2 separate regions of the Homo sapiens genome follow, and region 2 is linked to region 1. A link means that fine-mapping ties the variant in region 1 to the expression of a gene that starts in the linked region. Tissue or cell type: whole blood. Region 1 holds a variant in brackets; the other region holds the start of a gene. Each region is shown on its reference strand, or each on the opposite one. Region 1 overlaps ZNF169 (zinc finger protein 169). Region 2 holds the start of CYP2C8 (cytochrome P450 family 2 subfamily C member 8).

Region 1 (5,382 bases):
ACTATCTCATGATCAATGAAGGAAAGCAACTCTTTTTCCTCCATTCCATATCAGGAAAGTGGAACATCTGTTATTGATTTCTGCCATCTTCACACTTATGGAGAAAGGAAAGGAATTCAAGAGAGCACTCTTATGGCAGGCGCTCACGGCTAGATACGAATTTTGGAAGTCCAGAAGGCAGAGTGTTATGGACTAAATTGTGTCCCTCCCCACCCAAATTCATATGTTGAATCCCTAATCCCCAGTGTGACTGTTTTTGCATACAGGACATTTAAAGTTGTAATTAAGGTTAAAACAAGGTCTTTAGGGTGTTGCCCTAATCCAGTATCACTGGTGTCCTTTTAATGAGAGACACCAGGAAAGTGTGTGTACAAAGAATAAGCTATGAGACACCACAGAGGGAAGGCAGCCATCTGCAGGCCAAGGAGAGAGGCCTTAGTAGAAACCAAACCTGCCAACACCTCATTCTAGGACTTCCAGTTTCCTGAACTGTGAGAAGATAAATATTCTATTGCTTAAGGCACCCAGTCTGGTGTTTTCTTATGTCAGCCCTAGCAAATTAATACAGATTTTGGTACTGTGATTGGGATGCTTTGTAACCTAAAATGTGGAAGTGACTTGGAACTGGGTACTCGGTAGAAAGAAGCTACAAGAGTTCTGAGGCACATGTTAGGAAAAGCCTGGATGACCTTTAAAACACTGTTGGTAGGAATGTAGATGTTAAAAGGTTCTGGGCTGGGTGTGGTGGCTCACACTTTGAGAGGGCAAAGCAGGAGGATCATTTGAGGCCAGGTGTATGAGACCAGCCTAAGCAACATAGCAAAAACCCGTATCTACAAAATGTTTGGGGTTTTTTTTTGTTTTGTTTTGTTTTGTTTTTAATTTTAAGGTGATTGTGGTTAAGTCTCAGACAGAAATGAGGAATGGGTAATGGGAAACTGGAATCCTTGCAAAGGACTTGCCCAAATTGCGTTCTAGTGTTTTGTGGAGTACAGAAATTGTGAGTGAGGCAGTGCAGAATATTCAGGTGATATTTCTACACAAAGTGATGCAAGTGGAGTCTGTTTTCTCCTTGCTGCTTATAGTAAAATATTAGAGGAGAAAGATAAATTGAAGGAACTGTTAAGCAAAAAAGAACCAGTACTTAAAGATTTGGAAAATTCTCAGCCTGTCCGCATTGCAAAAAATGAGAAAGTATGTTCTTGAAAGAACACTAGGGTGTGGCTGGACAACCATGTGATAAAGAGATTAGTATAGGTCTGAATGGAACCAATTAACCATCTCACCAGAAATGCTGCCAGCTTGAACTGAATAGAGAAAGAGACAGGACAAAAATGAAGGCAGGCTGTTAGACTTCTGGGATTCTACGGGAAGGTACAATAGAGCTATCCAGTTGCAAACGCACGTTAATCTTCAAGAAAAGGGAAGAATGTGATTCTCAAAGGTTCTAATGGGCCCAGAGAGTACAGGTCTAGAGGGCAAGTGTGTCTCCTCCTCAATTTCAGTGGGCCAGGAGCCGCTGCCAAGGGCCAAGGGAGCGACACTGCAGCTCCCGTGAGCCTAAAAAGCAGGGCTGCCAATCCAGTTGGCCCAGAAGGCAGAGCACTGAGCCAAAGGGGATTATTCTCGAGACTTAAAATCTAATGGAAGTTGCCTTGCCAGGTTTGAGACTTGCTTGGGATCCATCATTCTTCATTTCTTTCTCATGTCTTTCCTTTGGAATGGGGAAGTCCAGCCTCTGCTTGTCCCACCATTGTAGAATATTGTGGAAGCAGATATCTGTCTGGTTTCACAGGATCACACCTGGAGAATTTTGCCTAAGGATGAATTGTACCTAAAGTCTCATTCACACTTGATTTAGATGATATTTAAATGAGATTTTGGATCTAGAGGTGAAGTTGAAATGGGTAAAGAATTTTGGGACTGTTGGGATCATGTGAATGTATTTTGAATGTCTGAGGGACCTGAACTTTGGTAGTGGAGTGTTATAGACTAAATTGGGTTTCCCAGAAATTCATATGTTGAAGTCCTAACTGTGTAGTGTGACTGTATCTAGAGATAAGGCCTTTAGGAAGGTTATTAAGGTTAAACGAGGCCATGTGGCTGTGGCTCTATCCAAAATGACTGGTGTCCCTAGAAGAGGAGGAAGCCACACCAGGAAAGCATACACACAGAAAAAAGCCCACGTGAGGACGTGGCCAGAAAGCAGCCATCCGCAAGCCAAACAGAGAGGCTTAAGCAGCAGCCAAACCTACCAATACGTTCATCTGGGACTTCCAGCCTCCATAAATATGAAAATATATTTCCGTTGTCAAAATCACCCAGCCTGGGGTACTTTGTTATGGAACCCCTAGCAAGCCAAGACAAATTGTGAATATAGAAAGTAAACCAAAAATCAACTATCTCATGATCGATGAAAGAAAGCAACATTTTTTTTTTTCCATTCCATTTCAGGAAACTGAAGCATTTACTAGTGATTTCTGCCAGCTTCACACTCACGGGGAAAGGAAAGGTCAGAAGACCTCTTGGGGTAGGAGCTGATGACCAGACTTGGTCCTCCTGTGTCTATGCAAGTGAGACTTCTGGCTAAAGCCACGCCCACACTCCCTGCAGACATACGGCTTCTCCCCAGAATGGGTCCGCTGATGTCGGATGAGGGCAGACTTAAAGCCAAAGCCGCGCCCACATTCATCGCAAATGCAGGGCTTCTCTCCTGAGTGTGTCCTTTGGTCAGAGATAAGGTGTGACTTCTGGCCAAGTCCTTGTCCACACACCCTGTCTACGTAAAGCTCCTCCTCTGAGTGTGTCCTCTGGTGTCGGGTGAGGAGCGACTTAAAGCCAAATGCACGCCCACACTTGGGGCACAGATAAGGCTTCTCCCCTGTGTGTGTCCTCTGGTGTCTGATGAGGGTGACCTTCTGACCAAAGCCACGCCCACAATCAGGGCACAGGTAGGGCTTCTCCCCTGTGTGTGTCCTCTGGTGTCCAATGAGGGTGACCTTCTGGCTAAAACCCCGCCCACACTGGGGGCACAGGTAAGGCTTCTCCCCTGTGTGTGTCCTCTGGTGCCTGATGAGAGTGACCTTTTGGCGAAAGCTGTGCCCACACTCAGCACAGACATAAGGCTTCTCTCCTGAGTGTGTGACCTGGTGACTAAGGAGGAGTGACTGCTGCCTGAAGCTAC[G/A]CCCACACTCAAGGCACAGGAAGGGCCTCTCCCCTGTGTGTGAGCTCTGGTGCTGGAGGAGTGATGCCTTCTGGCAAAAGCCTCTCCCACACTCAGGACACACGAAGGGCTTCTCCTCCAAGTGCGTCCTCTGGTGTAGAAGGAGGGCTATCTTCTGGCGAAAGCCTCGCCCACACTCCTGACATACAAAGGGCCTCTCCCCGGAGTGAATCCTCTTGTGATTAGTGAGAGAGGATGTATACCTGAAGTGTCGCCCACATTCCCTGCACACATACGGCTTCTCCCCCGAGTGCTTCCTCTGGTGTATGGAGAGGGAGGCCTTCTGGCTAAACCGACGCCCACACTCAGGACACAGGTATGGCTTCTCCCCGGTGTGTGTCCTCTGGTGCTTGATAAGGTCTGATCTCTGGCAAAAGCCTCTCCCGCATTCAGGGCACACATGATGCTTCTGGTGGCTGAACAGGCTTGACTTTTTGCTAAGTCCCAGTCTATAGTTTCCACGTATGACTGCTCCAGATTCTGAAGTGTCTGCTCCCTTCAACATTGTGTCTGACCCCCCAAGACTCATCCTTTGGGCCAGGCGAAGGTCTGTTCCTCCTTCTCTGTTCCCTTCTACCCATTCTACTGGGTCACCTTGATGTGGGCTGAAGAATGTCCTAGAAATTCTGCTTGGCCTCTTTCTTAATGAGCTGTCGGGGCCTTCTGTCTCTCCACTTTCTCCTTTTTCACTAGAGCATCTTGGAGCTTCTAGTTGGAAGTCACCTCCTGCAGATGAGCTTGGGAAGATCTGTGTGGGATGGCCACTTAGCGCATATTGTCTGAGGAGCTGCGAGCTAGAAAAGGCCACCAGGTGGGGAAAACTTGGCTGGAATTCTGTTCTAGGCTCTGCTAGAGAGAAAGTCTTGGTCAGAATCACCACAGGTGACCATGGATTGTAATACCTGCCCAGCAGTTTTCTTCAGATGTTCACAACAAAGACTTATCTTCCAACCCACAAGGGCACATTACATGCTCTATTGCAGCACAGAAAACCCACACTACAAACTAGTCCTATCAGCCAAACTAAAAGGTTCAAAAAAGCATCACAGGCAGCTTCAGCTCTATAAATTGCTGCAAGTAGAGTTACACATTTATCTTCCTTTCTTGGGCGCCGCTCCCTTGCTTTTGCTCCAGCTCAAGCCTATTAAACCTTGCCTGAGAAACATTTGTTCGGCCTGCTGTTTATGCAAGAGCCAAGAACTTGGTGTCTGAGCTGCAGTTAAGAAACAGACTGATTATGATCTTGAAGGTGCTATAAATAAGATCTTAGCATCTGAAGGGGAGCCATGCTTTGGGCTTCCTTGACTGTGGTGACTCAAGTAAGGGGCACCCACGAATCAGATAAGCTGTAGCAAGAGATACTGGCTCCTGTGTGGAATAGGCTTTAGGCCAGGGAGCTTCCATATCAGCCTGATGTGAGTTGTCTCCTGAACTGTATGGACACCCTTAAGTCCTCTTGAAGAAGAGGAATCCCTGATGCTGCCCTCCGGGCAAATGAAGGTGCTGTCCTCTAGCCTCTGGGAAGACTGCAGCCAAGTATATTCCCCGAATAGCATTGCACAACACTACGTACACTGTTTTGCTCAATAATCCAGGATTTTTAAAAAAATCTGGTGAATTAAGGAGAAGCTCAGCGTTTGAAAGTTAATAATAGATGACTTCTCATTAGCATAAAGATGTTTCAGGGATTATACATATTTCGGCTTAAGCATATTCTTATCCATGCACAAAAACTGTTAAAACTATACAAATTGACTTTTTCAAAAAATTTTGTTTCTAGGTTTAAATAGGCTGCCAATTGGAGATAACACTAATTCCCATGATGGTATAAATTAAAGGCTCTGGAAATTGGCAGTGCTTTCAGCTTCCGTAAGTTGATACCGTAACTCCTAGGTAATTATTGACTAAGTTCTTTTTTTTTTTTTTTTTTTTGAGACAGAGTCTCGCTCTGTTGCCCAGGCTGGAGTGCAGTGGCGTGATCTTGGCTGACTGCAACCTCTGGTTCAAGCAATTCTCCTGTCTCAGCCTCCTGAGCAGCTGGGATTACAGGCGTGCACCACCATGCCCGGCTAAGTTTTGTATTTTTAGTAGAGATCGGGTTTCACCATGTTGGCCAGGCTGGTCTTGAACTCCTGACCTTAGGTGAGAGACGGGGTTTC
Region 2 (5,382 bases), not on the chromosome of region 1:
ATACCTTTATAATAATGAACATCTAAGGCACTGATAAAACCAAATGTTGGCAAGGATTTGAAGCAATGGGAACTATTAGTTATTGCTGATATGAATGCAAAATGTCACAGACACTCTGGAAGAGAGTTTGGTGGCTTTTACAAAACTAAAATATGCTTACCATATGATCCAGCAGTTGTGCTCCTTGATATTTGCCAAATGAGTTGAAAACATATGTCCACACAAAACTTGCACAAGGACATTTATAGCATCTTTATTCATTATTGCCAAAATTGGAAGCAACCAAGATATCCTTCACTAGATGAACAGATAAACTGTGGTACATCAATGCAAGGGAATATTATTATATTACTATTTGGTGGTAAGAAGAAATGAGCTTTCAAGCCATGAGACGACATGGAGAAACCTTCTGCATATTAATAAGTGATGGAAACCTGCCTGAAAAGGCTACATACTGTGTGATTCCAACTATATAACAATCTCTTATAGTAAAGGCAAAACCATGGCAACACTAAAGTGAACTGTGGTTCACTTGTTACCAAGGACTTGCATGGAAGGGAGAGAATACGCAGAGCATGGGGGGTTTTTAGGACAGCAAATCTATTCTGTATGATGCTACGATGGTGGATATATGGCATTATACATCAGTCAAATTTATAGAATGTACAACACAAACAGTAAACCCTATGTGAACTTCGAACTTTGGTTGATGATTATGTCTTATTGTTGGCTCACTGACTGTAACTAATGAACCCCACTGATGGGGGTTGTTGATTGTGGGAAAGACTATTTGTAGGTGTGGTGAAGGGGTTTGTGGGAACTGTTGCTCGGAGCCTAAAATTGCTATAAAAATAAATTCTATTAATTAAAAAAAAACCCCGCTCTAATTCACAACCCTATCCAAGCTGAGGTGGGTGTCAATCTGTGACTGTAGAGGGCTTAATTAATGCTAATACACTCTTGATCATTTGGACTTAGGTGGGAATTCTATAGGATAGGGTATTTCACTGAACCACCAAGCAGGAAAACTGGGATTCTAATACAAAATCTTTTACTGGTGCATTGATAATGCTCTAACTCACTGAGTCACCAATTGCTCATTCCTGAAAAACAAAGCAAAATTAAATTAGTAGATCTCAGAGATCCCGTCTGTCTTTAAATTATCTATGTTCCTTTTATTCTATAAAAAGAAAGGTCAAGGCAGGAGCCTCAGCTCAGGAGAAGAAACAAGGAGCAGAGCAAGGGCAACTGTTTCTCAAGGAATAAAATTATTGCTCTAAAGAGAGAAAGTGAACTTATTTTATCCAAATAAACTAGCTTATACCTACGTGAGTGAGGCAGCAAATTACTACTTCCCTTTGCCCTGGATAAAGGGTTCACCAGGACCTGGACTCACTCACCTTTTAAAGGTTATAAAACCAAACACGTCTGACCCACATTTTACTCAACTGGTGCTAGAATTATTAACTAAATTAATGTTTATTTTGAAAGTCACTGATTAGATTAATCCACAAGTATTGAATTTTAGTCAATCTTGGTGGCCCGGTTTAACTGGATGTTTTGCTTAAAAGGAAGGCAGCAAGATGCAGGGGTTATGGTTTCCAGCCCCAGCTTGGTCACTTGCATTCTGTGTGTCCTTAGCTAAAGTACTGAATCTCCATGGTCTAACTTTCTCCTCTCTAAACTGGGAATAATTTTACAGTGGGCAAAGATAATTGAGAGAATAAAAAGAGATGTGATGAGTGTGAAAATTCTCTGTAAATTTGTCATAATGTCTATAAACATAATCGATAAAACATTGTATAACTGGGTCTTAATATTTTCTTAATGAAAGAGCTGGAAATAACTGTACTGGTCAATTTAGAATAAAGGTAATCTTTTCAGAGCATGCCTTTGTATACACACTTTGTTATTAGTGATCTAGTAATGTTCATAAATCCAGTTGTATTTAGATCTTCATGACCATTGACTATCAGTTCCCATTTCAGGTCTGCACATTGCAGTGGTTCTGTGCCCTGGGTCCATTCAGTGATTTCCCTGTGTTCCATCTTCTGTTGAATCCACAACTGTTGTTCTGTGTATAATTTCTCTTCCTTGCTGTGTATGATTACATTCTATTATTTGTAACAATAACAGACCAAAAACAATAGAAGCAGCCATGTCTGGAGGTGACTGGAAGGTGGAGAAGCCATAGATTTTCAAGCCCTGTGCCATAAATTATGTGAGATTGGCCCTTTCCTTAATAGTGCTGAACAACTTTCACTTGTGAGGTGATGCAGAGGGGAGAACTCTAATTTTTATTTCTTCTTTTGAGCGTCTCCGGTCCTCTTATCCTTATAAACAAATAACGGACTTCTATTTAATGTGAAGCCTGTTGCTTTCTGAACAGAGTCAAGGTGGCGTATCTTCAGAGTAACTAATGTCTGGGGTTTGTTTTGTTTTTCTAAAATTGTTCTTGAGCCAGCTGTGGTGTAAGTGGTAATGAACCCCAATGGGTATCAGAAGATCTCTGCTCAAATCCCGGTTTTACCGGCAATGAGCTGTGTGGCACTGACAGGTGTCCTGTTCTCCCAGAGTTTCTTTCCCAATTTGAAAAATAAAAAATGATAATCTTTATACTCCAGTCTCTTTTAATGATGAATATACATTTATATATATACTTTTATATATTTAATATAATATTTAATAGTATAAATATGTATTTATGTTATTATTATGTAATAATGTATGTAACACTCCCTGCTAATTCAGTTTGTCTCTTTGACATGTAAAGTAAATAATCACCTATTATTATAATAATGTAATAATAACACAAATATTATTATGTAATAACATATATATTTATGTATATTGTTTATATACATTTAAATATATATAAATATACATTTATTAGCTAATAATTTGATATATGTATGGTAATTCAACATGTATGAGTTATATTCACTATTTCATGTTTAGGCAGCTGTATTTTAAGTGAACTATACTAAATATTTGAAAGGCTTTTGTTATCAAGGGCTAAGTCTCCTATTTTTTGATATAGCATTACAATGTACATTTTTTATACACAAAATATAGAATACACTGATTTCCCTCAAGGTCATAAATTCCCAACTGGTCATTAATCTGAGAATATTGAATTTTGAGTATATTCTAACATAGAATCATTTACTTCAGTGTTTCTCCATCATCACAGCACATTGGAACAACCAGGGACTTTTAATTAAAAATACCTGGGCTCCAATCCAATACAATTAAACCAGAATCTCCTAGATTGGCACTGGAAAGAAGGAGTAGGACAAAAGAACATTTTATTTCTATCCATGGGCCAAAGTCCACTCAGAAAAAAAGTATAAATTGGATCTAGGTGATTGTTTACTTTACATGTCAAAGAGACACACACTAAATTAGCAGGGAGTGTTATAAAAACTTTGGAGTGCAAGCTCACAGCTGTCTTAATAAGAAGAGAAGGCTTCAATGGAACCTTTTGTGGTCCTGGTGCTGTGTCTCTCTTTTATGCTTCTCTTTTCACTCTGGAGACAGAGCTGTAGGAGAAGGAAGCTCCCTCCTGGCCCCACTCCTCTTCCTATTATTGGAAATATGCTACAGATAGATGTTAAGGACATCTGCAAATCTTTCACCAATGTAAGTCTGCCTTATGTTCCTCCAGCCAATTGCAAAGGGTAAGTTATTTGACTGCTATTTTTAGACAAAATATATTCCTGGAAGCACACTATTATAATAGATCATTGTAAAGCAAAATACTCCCTCTGAACTTCTTTGATGTTTCTTTTGTCTTCCTATTTTTTTTTTTTTTGAGACGGAGTCTCGCTCTATTGCCCAGGCTGGAGTGCAGTGGCACTATCTCCACTCACTGCAAGCTCTGCCTCCCAGGTTCACACCATTCTCCTGCCTCAGCCTCCCCCGAGTAACTGGGACTACAGGTGCCCTCCACCATGCCCGGCTAATTTTTTGTATGTTTTAGTAGAGACAGGGTTTCACCGTGTTAGCCAGAATGGTCTCAGTCTCCTGACCTCATGATCTGCCTGCCTTGGCCTCCCAAAGTGCTGGGATTACATGTGTGAGCCACCGTACCTGGCCTCTTTTGTCTTTCTAAGTCTGTCATTGTCAGAAATAGCGGAGTGAGTTGATGCATTTTGTGAATACAGAAACATTGGGGTCATTGTATTATATAATCATTTAATACAGTGGCAAAAGTTTAAAGTGCTGTTTCTCCTCTTTGTTTCACAGTGTTTTGCTATGATTTTTGACTGAAGGTGAAGGGAAGTGTGTGTGATTAGAAATTTCATCCAATAAGTTCTCTACTATAGTAGTCATGTGTTTTATTCAGAATGGTCATGAAAATTGAACTTCTCTGAAGATTCATTTGATGGCTGATGTGAAATAAATATCTGTGGGTTCAGGGCAAACATAAGTGCATGAAAGAAAGAAGTAATCAGTCAGGGCCCAATAGGTAGTTAACAGAATTCTTTTGGATTCTGAAGAAAGCCACTGTCTGTGGCCAAGGTTGCTGGAGAATGGAAGAAATTGTTCTTCCAGGAGATGCTGAATGTCCTGATTCTAACTTTGTGGTGCTTCATCGTTCCATATTGGTAATACCAGCAGTTACAAACTGGACTGGGCATTAGAATCACCTGGGGTGACACTGTAAATACAGATTTCTAGGGTTCATCACAGGACTGCTGTATCAGAATCCTCATGTTAAGAGCTTTACAAGTGACCCTGAAGTCTTTAGCTGGGTAGTGGCCTCAAGGTGGACATGGGGGATTGATTAATTGCTCAAGCATCAGTTTAAATTAGCAGAGATTCCAGTTTGGAGCTTCTACATATTACCTGTGGGACTCTGAGAATGAATCTGCAATTCTCTGGCCTCAGTTTCTTCATTTTTAAAACAGGTCAAATGAATGTGCTGAATGTGTTGAAGTGAGGATGAACTGTGTGATTTGTGTACCAATTGCCTGGGTCATTGCGTGGCACATCACAGGCCATCTATAAGTGGCAGCTATAACAATCACCATCACATTTATGTACAAAATTCAGAAATATCGAATCTATGTGTGGCAAATATGAACATTAAAAAATACAATGAAAATGTCAGTCTGAATCATACATAGTATTTGGAGCAAATAGCGACTTATTTTGCTGCTATTTGCATTTCCTTTCCCAGTTCTCAAAAGTCTATGGTCCTGTGTTCACCGTGTATTTTGGCATGAATCCCATAGTGGTGTTTCATGGATATGAGGCAGTGAAGGAAGCCCTGATTGATAATGGAGAGGAGTTTTCTGGAAGAGGCAATTCCCCAATATCTCAAAGAATTACTAAAGGACTTGGTAGGTGCACATATTTCTGTGTCAGCTTTGGTAA

What was found.
Region 2: CYP2C8 starts here. The variant in region 1 is fine-mapped to the expression of CYP2C8 in whole blood (TOPMed, PIP above 0.99).

Annotation. Positions count from the first base shown.
Region 1 is chr9:94,298,502-94,303,883 of GRCh38, reverse strand. It overlaps ZNF169 (zinc finger protein 169), which reads right to left. Exons shown (of 5, transcript NM_194320.4): 5 at 2,055-4,069. The coding sequence ends at 2,514. Among named protein-coding and RNA genes, the nearest start is that of NUTM2F, 27 kb to the left of the region's middle. The variant G/A (reference allele first, on the strand shown) is at 3,185.
Region 2 is chr10:95,067,495-95,072,876 of GRCh38, reverse strand. CYP2C8 (cytochrome P450 family 2 subfamily C member 8) reads left to right here and starts at 3,380. Exons shown (of 9, transcript NM_000770.3): 1 at 3,380-3,642; 2 at 5,186-5,348. The coding sequence starts at 3,475. RefSeq lists a cis regulatory region at 1,545-1,565 and a promoter at 508-3,475.